Linked DNA regions of Homo sapiens: region 1 is linked to region 2. The links come from fine-mapping of genetic effects on gene expression. A gene starts in region 2. The other region holds a variant in brackets. All regions are shown on one strand. Distances are between the middles of the regions.

Region 1 (5,373 bases), 76 kb after region 2:
TACATTTCTGACCTTGGCTGTGCCTCAGTTGTTTCTCAGGGACCAGGATGGCCCATCCATTGGGGTCAGTGAATGTGCTGCTCCAAGAGCTGGCCCGAGACAGTTTGCCAGCTCCTAGGACTCTCCTCTCCCTGAGACTCACAGGAGGCAGGTGAGGTTCAAGCCTGGGGCTCTGGCTGTCGCAGCCCTCCGCAGGGAAGAGGGCCGAGCTGAGCAGGGGAAGGAGGAGCCCAGGGCTCCCCATCAGTTAAGGCAGTCTGTGTCCCTCCTTAAGGACTTGTTTCTTATCTTGAAAAATATGGACAGAGGCCTTATTCATCCTTCTTTTCATATGTATGGTATCTGCACAGATCATGTTCATCAACCCCTCAGTTCAACCTATAAGGGCACGTTTTTGTCTGTGACTCGATCTGAGGGCCACATGGGAAGAATGGAGCTGCCCACCTTCACCCCTGACTCAGCCGGGGTCTCCTGCGGGTCATCTCCACTTCTGTACCCAATGCAGGGGCCATGTTTCATTCATCTCTGAGACACCAGGTCTGGCACATAGATGCATTAGGATTTACCCAATAAATAAAAGAGCAAAGAATGTACCACTCAAAAAATAAGTGGGGACATCTCAGCCACCCCCTCAGTCCCCGGGGGACATCTGAGCCACCTCCACCCTTGTGCCTTTCTGTGTTCTGGGATTTTCACCAGCTGCTTTTCCTGTGACCTTGGTAGCAATAAGATTCTACAGTGGAATCGGAGCTTTCTCTAAGACAACTGGTCCCACATTCTCTGTCATAAAGTCTTCATTAGAGCTATTCCTTGTCACCCAGGCAACATTCATTTGGCAGATAGTGATTGAACACAACCATGACTCAGGCACTGGGCTAGGTGCTTGGGATACATCCGTGAGCCACACAAAGTTCCCCACCCCAGAGGAGCTCTTACCTGGCCCAGAATCTGGATCTCTGCCCCCAGCCCCTATCCTCAAGGTAGAGTCCCAAAGATGTCCTAAATCTCACACAGGCTGAGTTGTGCTTAATCCATTTCTGCAGACACAACTCATGTACAAATGGGCCAAGCCGAAAATCTGTAGCGAGGACCTTGAGGGGGCAGTGAAGCTGCCTGCCTCTGGTGTGAAGACCCACTGCCCACCCTGCAACCCAGGCTTCTTCAAAACCAACAACAGCACCTGCCAGCCCTGCCCATATGGTTCCTACTCCAATGGCTCAGGTAACCTCCTCACCACCCCACTCTCTGCAGCACATCGACTGTGTGGGTGGGCTGTGTGGGCACTAACAGTGGCCAGCTGAATGCAGACTCTGCCCTTCCAAGGGAGGCAGTAAGGAATAAGGACCAGGCCACCTTTGAGGACTAAATTCAGGAGAAGAGAGGTCAGGGCTGGCCTCGTCTGCAGGTCAGAGTCATACTTGAGGCTGCCTTCCTTCCTCCTTGCTCCAACTGCAAATGTGACTCAGGACTGAAGGTGCCCAATCCTCAAAGCAGGGCTTCCAGCATATGGCAGAGATGCTGACTAGGCTTACAGGGCTGGGATGACCAACCCCACACAACCAAAACCTATAAGCCATGCTGCCTTGGGGGGATTTGAGTACCTGTTAAAATGAAAGCATTTAATGATAATATGACAATAATATGAACTATATGTATCAGACTAGAAGGTACATTTAAGTTTTGAAATGGAAATTGGGGTGGGCAAATAGGATGGTTGGCATATTGGAATGAAGGCTCAGTGTTTACATCTTGAGTTAAATACATTGTCAGAATGTTTTTGAGTCAACTTGATACAACTTCCTGCAGCAGTACTCAGCAGCCAGGCTTCTGGGCTGCCCGCTACTGTTGCAACTTGTCTGTGTGGCAGCAGCTCCAGTCAGAGTGACTGCAGCCTTCCCACTGAATGCATGGATCTTGTTTGTGGTTCCCCAGACTGTACCCGCTGCCCTGCAGGGACTGAACCTGCTGTGGGATTTGAATACAAATGGTGGAACACGCTGCCCACAAACATGGAAACGACCGTTCTCAGTGGGATCAACTTCGAGTACAAGGGCATGACAGGTAATTGCCTCTCCCTGTGCCATGAGCTGTCAGCTCCCTGCACACCCTCAGTTCTTCCAACTTCACATTTCTTCATAATAGTGATGTCTGAGAAAAATAAGCTAACCATGTCATGCATTCCCTTGAAAGTTCCACTCCTCATGGACATATGTTCTGCCAAGACAGCTTTAGAGGAAGGAACAGAGCTAGAAACATGAGCGTGCACTTCAAAGGTCTTGCTCTGAGAGCTTCAGGGTTTTTGACCAAAGTGGCAGGATAAGTAA[C/T]ACGGTTCATGTTCAGTGGTGGTTCTGGGCGCCTCAAAAGATGGTGTCAAACCTCCCTTCCAGAGTGTCATCTGGGTGCACATTTGCCTTGCACCCAAGAGCACAAGGCATTAACTCTCCTCTTTCCTTTTCAGGCTGGGAGGTGGCTGGTGATCACATTTACACAGCTGCTGGAGCCTCAGACAATGACTTCATGATTCTCACTCTGGTTGTGCCAGGATTTAGGTGAGGAATCCAAAGCCCAGGGGAGTCCAGGCCAGCTTGGCCATATCCGAATCCCACGTATTTTGGAATATTGTAGAGGAGAGGGCTTCCGGGGTTGTGTTTCATTTCATTTCAAATGTCAGTTGAGAACAGAGGGTACAGTTTGACCGAGGTAACCCAATGCTATCACGTTTTTCAAGTTGCTGCCCATGTTGATTTACCGACTGCTCTCTCTCCCGTATAGCTTCTCCCAGCCATTAGTCACGTGCTATTCAAATTCTTCCTCCTCACAGCATCACTTAAGATTAGAAAAAAAATAAAAATAAAAAATAATGGGGTCAGAAATGCCCATAGACAGTTCATCTTTATTTGGGGCAAGAAGATTGGGAAGGATTATTCTTACTGTATTTGTCCCCATATCCCAGGAAGACCTAGGGCAACACGAAATTTGTTTCCCACTAAACAAACAAACAAACACGCACACACACACACACACCTCCTGGCAGTGTGGTGTGGTGGAAGGAACACCAGACTGGAAGACAGGGCACTTGTGCTTTGCCGCTTACTGGCCGTGCGACCTTAGGAAAAGTCACTTCACCTGTTCAGGCTTCGGGCCCCTCATCCATAAAAACAGTGTGTGATTTAAGACTAACTGAGGTTCAGATGGCTTTTCCAGCCCGCTGGTTAACACAGCTGCATAGAGATAAGCTGAGAACTGGAGGTCCTCAGAATTCAGGCAAATGGCTAAAGCCAAAAGGAAAGCCGTGAATGAATTTCCAAGGCCAAAGTGAACTCTTCTGCCCATATGTGCTCTAAAGATAAGAAGCAGGCACTGAATATGCTTCCCTAGTGCCAGTCTGACACCTTCATTTCCTTCTTCGAGGTCCCTGCTTCCCATCCCTGGGATGTTGCTCAGTTTGCCTTCCCTTAACACACATTACTCAGAGCTAGCCAGATGAATGAAGCCTGTGTTTGCAAGGTGAGCAAACTTTTTAGGCTTTTTTTGGAATAACATTCAAAAAGTACTTTCCAATTTGCAAATCTGATCGTCATAGTAAAGTGTTGCCTCATCCCCCATCCCCACTACTACCCCAGCCCGCTTGGGCATGGCTCTCTCTTTCCCAAAAGTAGGACCAAACGGAGGACTTTGCTGGATCACAAATTCTGCTCCTTTAACCCCGGCAAAGCTCCCCAGTGCTGGAGAGACAGCTGCTGAGTAAATGTCAACAATTTACAGTCTTATGATAGACGTGCTTCTCAAACATAAATGTGCACACGAATCGCCTGGGAATCGTATTAACATGCAGATTCTGATTCACTGGGCCTGGGAGGAGCCTGAGGTTCTGCAGTTCTAATAAACTCTGGGAGATGGCCATGTTGCTGGTCTGTGGACCATATTCTGCTAGTGAGGTGATACAGCATTTTATAAAGGACCGCCACATCTGTCATGCCTTCAGGTCTCCCCGCGATGATGGGGGGTAGGTAAGAAAGAGATTTCATCACCTCCATTTTACAGATAAGGAAACCGTGGTTTGGCTAGGTCAAGGTCACATAGCTAGGAGGGCAGAATTGGATTTAGTCCACACGCTTTCCATCATACTCAGAACTTAACCCTGTCCCCCAGCAGACGCTCTGCTGTTGTCTGGGCTCTTCAATAAGCACTGCCTGGCCTTTAGAACTGACTTTTAATTTCTGCCCCTACAGACCTCCGCAGTCGGTGATGGCAGACACAGAGAATAAAGAGGTGGCCAGAATCACATTTGTCTTTGAGACCCTCTGTTCTGTGAACTGTGAGCTCTACTTCATGGTGGTACGTTTTCCTTTCTTTGCCCGCTAGAGGGCCTCCAGGGGAGGGTTAGCCCCATCTGCCCCATTGGTGTGTCCACGTGACTGACACCCCCCCTTGTAGTGATTCCACAGAGGAAAGGCCCAGACTGACCAGCAGGGACTTCACAGTTTAACAAGGGTCTCACCAACCGTGATGGCACCTGGGATGGCAGCCACATGGGCACCCACTTCCCCTCTGGCCATCGCACCCGCTTCACTTGTCTGTCCTGGGTTCAGGGTGTGAATTCTAGGACCAACACTCCTGTGGAGACGTGGAAAGGTTCCAAAGGCAAACAGTCCTATACCTACATCATTGAGGAGAACACTACCACGAGCTTCACCTGGGCCTTCCAGAGGACCACTTTTCATGAGGCAGTAAGTTCCTCCCCTTCCTCAGACCCCCAGGAGAGACCCTCTGAACCCAGGAGGACTCCTAGCATTAGCTTAAGTATGAGTGTGAAGTTCAGAATCTGAGGGTTAGAAGGATCTCAGGGGGTCAAGCAGAAAACTGCCTAACCCAGCCCTCTGAGGACCACCTAGTCTTGTCCAGCTGACTTCCTGGAAAGATGACACCATAAGAAATAAGTTGGCCCTCCTTGTAGTCCCTGCCCTGATACATGTGTTACCAGACTTGTTGTTGTTTTTAATAATAACAACTCTGGTTTTAGTTTCTTAACTCAAAGGAATACAGGCTCATTGCAGAAGACACAGAAAATAAAAATAAACAAAAATAAGAAATAAAATCAGCCATAATCCTACTACTCAGAGATAAACCAGTTAACATCTGGACAATCTCCTATACACTGTTTGTTTCTGCACAAGTACATTTTTTTCTCTTTTATAAGGAAAAGACTTGCTTTTTTCATAAAACTGTATATATTATATTTTCCCCATGGTACTTAACATTTTTATATGTCCTATAAATGGTTCAGTCTCATTTTAAAATGACATCAAATGCACACGAAGAGCTACTGGTAAGTGAGTAAAAAGAGTCAGATGCTTCTCAGATTCTTCTTAA
Region 2 (5,373 bases):
CAAAAAAAAAAAAATATCCCACAATGATTCCTCACATCCCTAGGATGAAACCATAGCTAGCTAGCATGGTGTACACAGCACACCCAGCCAACCAAGGGCATCTCTCCAGCTCTGATTTCTGAGTGCTTCCATTGCACGCCTACACTCCAGCCCTTCTAGACTATTTGCAGTTCCCCAAATAAGCCATTCTCTCTCTCCTTTCCATGTATTTGCACCTGCTGCTTCCTTTGCCTTGCATATCTGGTTCCTGTTTCCTTCTTCCTAACTCACATTCTATCCACTCCCTCACCTGGCCTACCTAACTCATATTTGGACATCAAAATGCATCTGCTCTGTGAAGCTTTCCTTTAAGTTCCTGGTTCTCACGGCACCCTGCACACAACTCTGTCACAACATGTGCTATTGTGCAAGCATTTTTGCTATTGTCGGTCTCTCTTTACTACTAGAGTTCCTTGACAGCAGAAGCTACATCTAATTTATTTATATATCCTTGGCGTTTAGCAGAGTGTCTGGCTTATAGTAAATAAGTATTGAATAAATAAAAAGGGGCTCTCAATATTGTTATTAGACCACAATCACCACTTAATTCATCTTATTGTGCACCACTTCATATATCCCAATCACTTCTACCAGAAAAAAGATCATCTAAGTTCCGAAATCAGTGTCCACCATCATGCTAAACACACACATAACAAACATATTGTGGTGTTAACCAGAAGACAGAGACAGTGTGAACACAGATGTGTAAAGCATGACCTCTGGTGGCTTTCAGAGGATTCTCTCCCACTCCATATCTCATTTCTCTTCAGAGAACAGTCTTCCAAATAGGGAAATGGGTAGCTTGAAGGAACCTGGGCACTGCCATAACTTATACTCACAATTGATTTGAGCTGCCAGAGCCCCTTGTTCCTCTAGACTAGAACTCTACTTTCCTCTGCTCAAAAACGCCTCTGAAACGTTAGCCGACTTGAATATGGAGATAGGGAGGCAGGCAGAAAACAGACTTCCCTGGTACCCGACTGAGTGTCTTCACCAGAGTCCTTTATGTTACCATCTCTGCTCATCACACAGACAGAAAGAAGACTACCGGCGACCCTACTGGGAATCTGCGCAAGAAACCACAGTACCTTGGAAGCCCGCAGTTCTCCTAAGTAGGAATCATCGTTATCTAATGTAGGCTGCTGGAAAGGGTCCCGGGTGGGAGGCATGGCTAAATGCCTAACTCTTTTAAGAGGGATGGGAGGCCCGCTCAGCCGCAGCACAGCCTCACTGGCATAAGATCCCGGGTCCCAATTGTTTGGAGCGCTGGTTTCGGTTGCCAGGCAACTGCCCAGCCATCTATGACAGAGGAATTCCCTCAGAGGAGGGCGCCACCTGGCGGCTGACCACGGGAGGCCCCTGGGGAGGAAGCTCCGGGGACTGCAGAGGGAACGTTCCGCTGAGCGGGCCCGAGACTTGGAATTGCACTCCTGAGCCTCGGCGGAAAAGTGCTGGCTGCTCACCATCAGGACTTCTGCAAAAGACTTCAGTTGAGGAAAGAAGTCCTGAAAGATGACCCAGAAATTTCCTTCTCCCTCGCACCTAACAAAAGGCTTTCAAAGCCATGAGAGAATGAGGATGTCAAGAGACCAAAGAGGGCCGGGCGCGGTGGTTCACGCCTGTAATCTCAGCACTTTGGGAAGCGGAGGCGGGCGGATCGCTTAAGCCCAAGAGTTCGAGACCAGTCTGGGCAACATGGCGAAACCCCGTCTCTACAAAAAGTAGGAAAAAAATTAGCTGGGCTTGGTGGCACGCGCCCGTAGTCCCAGCTACTCGGGAGGCTAATCCAGGAGAATCTCTTGAACCCGGAAGGCGGAGGTTGCAGTTAGCCGAGATCGCGCCACTGCACTCCAGTGTGGGCGAGAGAGTGAGACCCTGTCTCAGAGAGAGAGAGAGAGAGAGAGAAAGAGAGAGAGAGAGAGAGAGAGAGAGAGAGAGAGAGAGAGAGAGAGAGAGAGGCCCACGTGCGGCGCTTGGGAAATTGCGGCTAAGGCAAACTCCTCGCTTAAACTCGGATCAACTACAGTGTCAGGGCTTCTCTTCTAGCCGGTTGTAAAAGCACGGATGGATTTGGCGGGATGTAAGATCTCCAGGAGTGGCCTTCGTAGGAGGGAACACGTACTGGGGCCTCTTCCAGGCGACGACGTCTGGAGGGTGATCTCTCCATCTTCTTTCTCTCGGTTCACACGCCACGTGTGCAACATCGGAGATGCTCATAAAATAACCCCTGGCCCGAAAGGGCAGTAGAAAACGGAAATTTGTTGGCTGGCTTGGAGGATGCTTCCACTGTGTTCTTCACACGAGCCCCGGGCCTGCCTGTTGGGCCGGTTGCGCACCCCGGGCGCGCGCTCTCCCGCGCCCACGCCGCGCGCACCAGCGGCGGCGGCTGCCATGGCGACCCGCAGGTGAGCTGCAGAGGCGCGCGTGGTCCCTGCCCCACCCGCGCGGAGCCAGAGAGGAGGCGGTTGTCAAGGCGACGTGGGTAGGAGGAGAGGACAGAGGGAGGAGGAAGGATGGGCGGTGTTGGCGTAGCCGCAGGGAGGTGACTGAAGCGAGCCTGGCCTCTTGCATCCTCCGCCTGTGTACCTCCCTCCCCTTTTTTTCCGCCTTCTGCCAGCAGAAGCAGCAGCCGCAGCACCTGAGCCGCTACTGCCGCTCACTCAGGACAACGCTATGGCTGAGCCTGGGCACAGCCACCATCTCTCCGCCAGAGTCAGGGGAAGAACTGAGAGGCGCATACCCCGGCTGTGGCGGCTGCTGCTCTGGGCTGGGACCGCCTTCCAGGTGACCCAGGGAACGGGACCGGAGCTTCATGCCTGCAAAGAGGTACTGCCGCCCCCCTACCCGATCCCGCTTTGGTCACAAAAGTCTTGGATCCAGGCGGAGACCTTGGGGACCCAGGCGCAGAGAGTTTCAGACGCCACGGAGTTTAGATTTCTTTGGGGATGAGGCGTGGGGGGAGGGAAGAGGAGCCAGTCTGGCGTCATGAGGAGGCCAGCACATTGGAGGACTCACGGATAGATCATCCTCACAGATTGGGATGCTGAGCTCAGCGAGAAAGGTCCCAGCCCCAAGAAGGGGAGCTACCTGGGTACCTGAACTCAGAATGAGGGAGGCAGACGAGTTATTTTCCAGTTAGGATGAACTCACCTTAAAAGTGGTTGACAAGAAAAGATTATGCACAGAGAAGCAAAATAGGAAGAGGAAAGAAGAGTAGTGGGAGAGGAAAGGAGTTAGGAAGGCCAGAAAAAAGTATCAGAGCGAAGTGGTTTTATCATGGCTACACAAAACGGAGTGTGAAGGTGGGAGATGTGCGAGAGGGATGATAGGATTCCAGCTCTCTAGTTCCTTGTTTATTAAACATCGGTTAGTGCAGACTGTAAAATGTGTCTCCTCCTTATAGCTTGGCCTCCCCGCAGCGTACTATGTTTAGTGTACCTGACAGTACACGACTCACCTTTTTGCAGATTTTGAGTTCTTCAATATCTTGTGTTCTGCCAACCTCTAGTCTCCTTCTCTGACTTAACATATGTCAAAGTCTTTTTCAAGGTATTTCCAATATGTTGGAAGCAGAATTCAGACAATAGGTAGTCAATCTCTTATAACCAAAAATAGCTTTTGAAAAGTCATCTTGGAGGAACATAAAAGGGCACTAGCAGCAACAAAACTAAGTCATTTCTATGTTATTGAAATAACAATATTTGGTTGTGCTCTGAGCAACTTTTTTAGAAACCATATGGCAGAGGCAACAATAAGATATTTACAAGAACTACGTTGGGGAAGGCAAAATAAAAGTTCTGTTATTTCTGTGAAATGTGAAGGACTTCATAAAAAGTCAAGCATCTAGCTCTGTAAATTTAATCCCAAATATCAAGCTTGACTAAGGTTTTGAGAGGTTAGAATATATATATAGATGTATTTTCTTTACTTTAAAAAATATATGTTTTAAAATAGAAATGAGGTTTCGATATACTGCCCCGGCCAGTCTCTAACTCCTGGGCTCAAGCGACTTCCCACCTCGGCCTCCCAAAGTGCTGGGATTATAAGAATGAGCCACTGCGCCCAGCCCAGAATATTTTTTATAAATTGTTAGTGTGAACTGATTGGCAACAACTCCATCCCATATGGAGATAAATTCTTATAAAGATGTTCTGTGTCTACAGCACAGCAGGTCATAAAGAAGTCAGGTGTGGGGGGGAGGATTTTTGTGTGAATAAAGATACTTGATTTTGAAGATTCATGAATATGACATAAGTGACCCCAGTGAGTGGGACTTTTGATAACCTTTATTAGCTCCAATGACAACCTGCCCTGGGCCATCTACATTTCCACCTAGCCGCATTATGACCTGTTTTAGAGATCGCAGGGAACAGTATGATCTTATCAGTGACTGGCTCACTGGCCTTGATGGCCTGTGGTCTAACCAACCAAAATAATGAGACCAAGAAAGCCCACTTGCCTAAGAATCAAACAAGGGAGTTTCCTGAGTGGAAGGTAAGAATCATACAGTTTAACTACCAATTCTTGTTGAGATCTTTGTCAACAATGGAAAATATGAGACATTTCAGAAATTAAGCACTTCTATTATCTTGGTTTGGAGGAAGGGAAGAATATTGATACTTGAGAACTCGAACTTGTGTACGAATTTTGCCTTTGGTCCTGTTTGAATAACCAATATTTGCCTAAGCAAAAGGTCTTGCCACAAAGTGTAAGCTTAAGGTAGTGGAAAGCTATGGAGCTCAACCTACCAGGGTTTCAGTCCTGTTACTTACCACGTGGTTTTTGGATTTGTAGAATGGGTATCAAAATAACACCTACCTCAGAAAGGATTGCTTTGAGTATTGAAATAGAAAATACATTGGAAACACAAAAGAGAGTTACCCACCCTCCTTCTCTGTTCAGCTTCTTTCCCATTAGATCCACACCCCATGCCAGATTGGAAATGGCTTAGGAGGCATGCCCATTTGCCACAGGCGTCAGCAAGTCCTGTTTACATTCTCCTTGAGCAAACAGTGGCCATTGAACACCCTCAACTCCAAAACAATCAGGGAGAGAATAAACCCATTATTATAGTATTCATTTGGCAATATGAACTGATCAAACAAGTTTGGGGGCTTCCAACCCCAAATGGTGAAAAACCAATTCAAGGTAGACCAGCTCTTCTCTGTTCTTTTTTTTTTTTTTTTTTTTTGGTGAGACAGAGTCTGGCTTTGTTGCCAGGCCAGGCTGGAGTGCAGTGGCATGATCTCGGCTCACTGCAGCTTCCACCTCCCAGGCTCAAGCAATTCTCCTGCCTCAGCCTCCCAAGTAGCTGGGATTACAGGCATGTGCAAC

Evidence for each region.
Region 1: its variant is fine-mapped to the expression of ELAPOR1 in whole blood (INTERVAL, PIP 0.97).

Annotation. Positions count from the first base shown.
Region 1 is chr1:109,187,134-109,192,506 of GRCh38, forward strand. It overlaps ELAPOR1 (endosome-lysosome associated apoptosis and autophagy regulator 1), which reads left to right. Exons shown (of 22, transcript NM_020775.5): 9 at 1,044-1,221; 10 at 1,933-2,061; 11 at 2,459-2,549; 12 at 4,233-4,338; 13 at 4,593-4,730. Among named protein-coding and RNA genes, the nearest start is that of SARS1, 24 kb to the right of the region's middle. The variant C/T (reference allele first, on the strand shown) is at 2,325.
Region 2 is chr1:109,111,472-109,116,844 of GRCh38, forward strand. It overlaps ELAPOR1 (endosome-lysosome associated apoptosis and autophagy regulator 1), which reads left to right and starts at 2,644. Exons shown (of 22, transcript NM_020775.5): 1 at 2,644-2,865. The coding sequence starts at 2,713. CFAP276 (cilia and flagella associated protein 276) reads right to left here and starts at 1,276. Exons shown (of 5, transcript NM_001245025.3): 1 at 1,128-1,276. The coding sequence starts at 1,208. RefSeq lists a silencer at 2,396-2,465.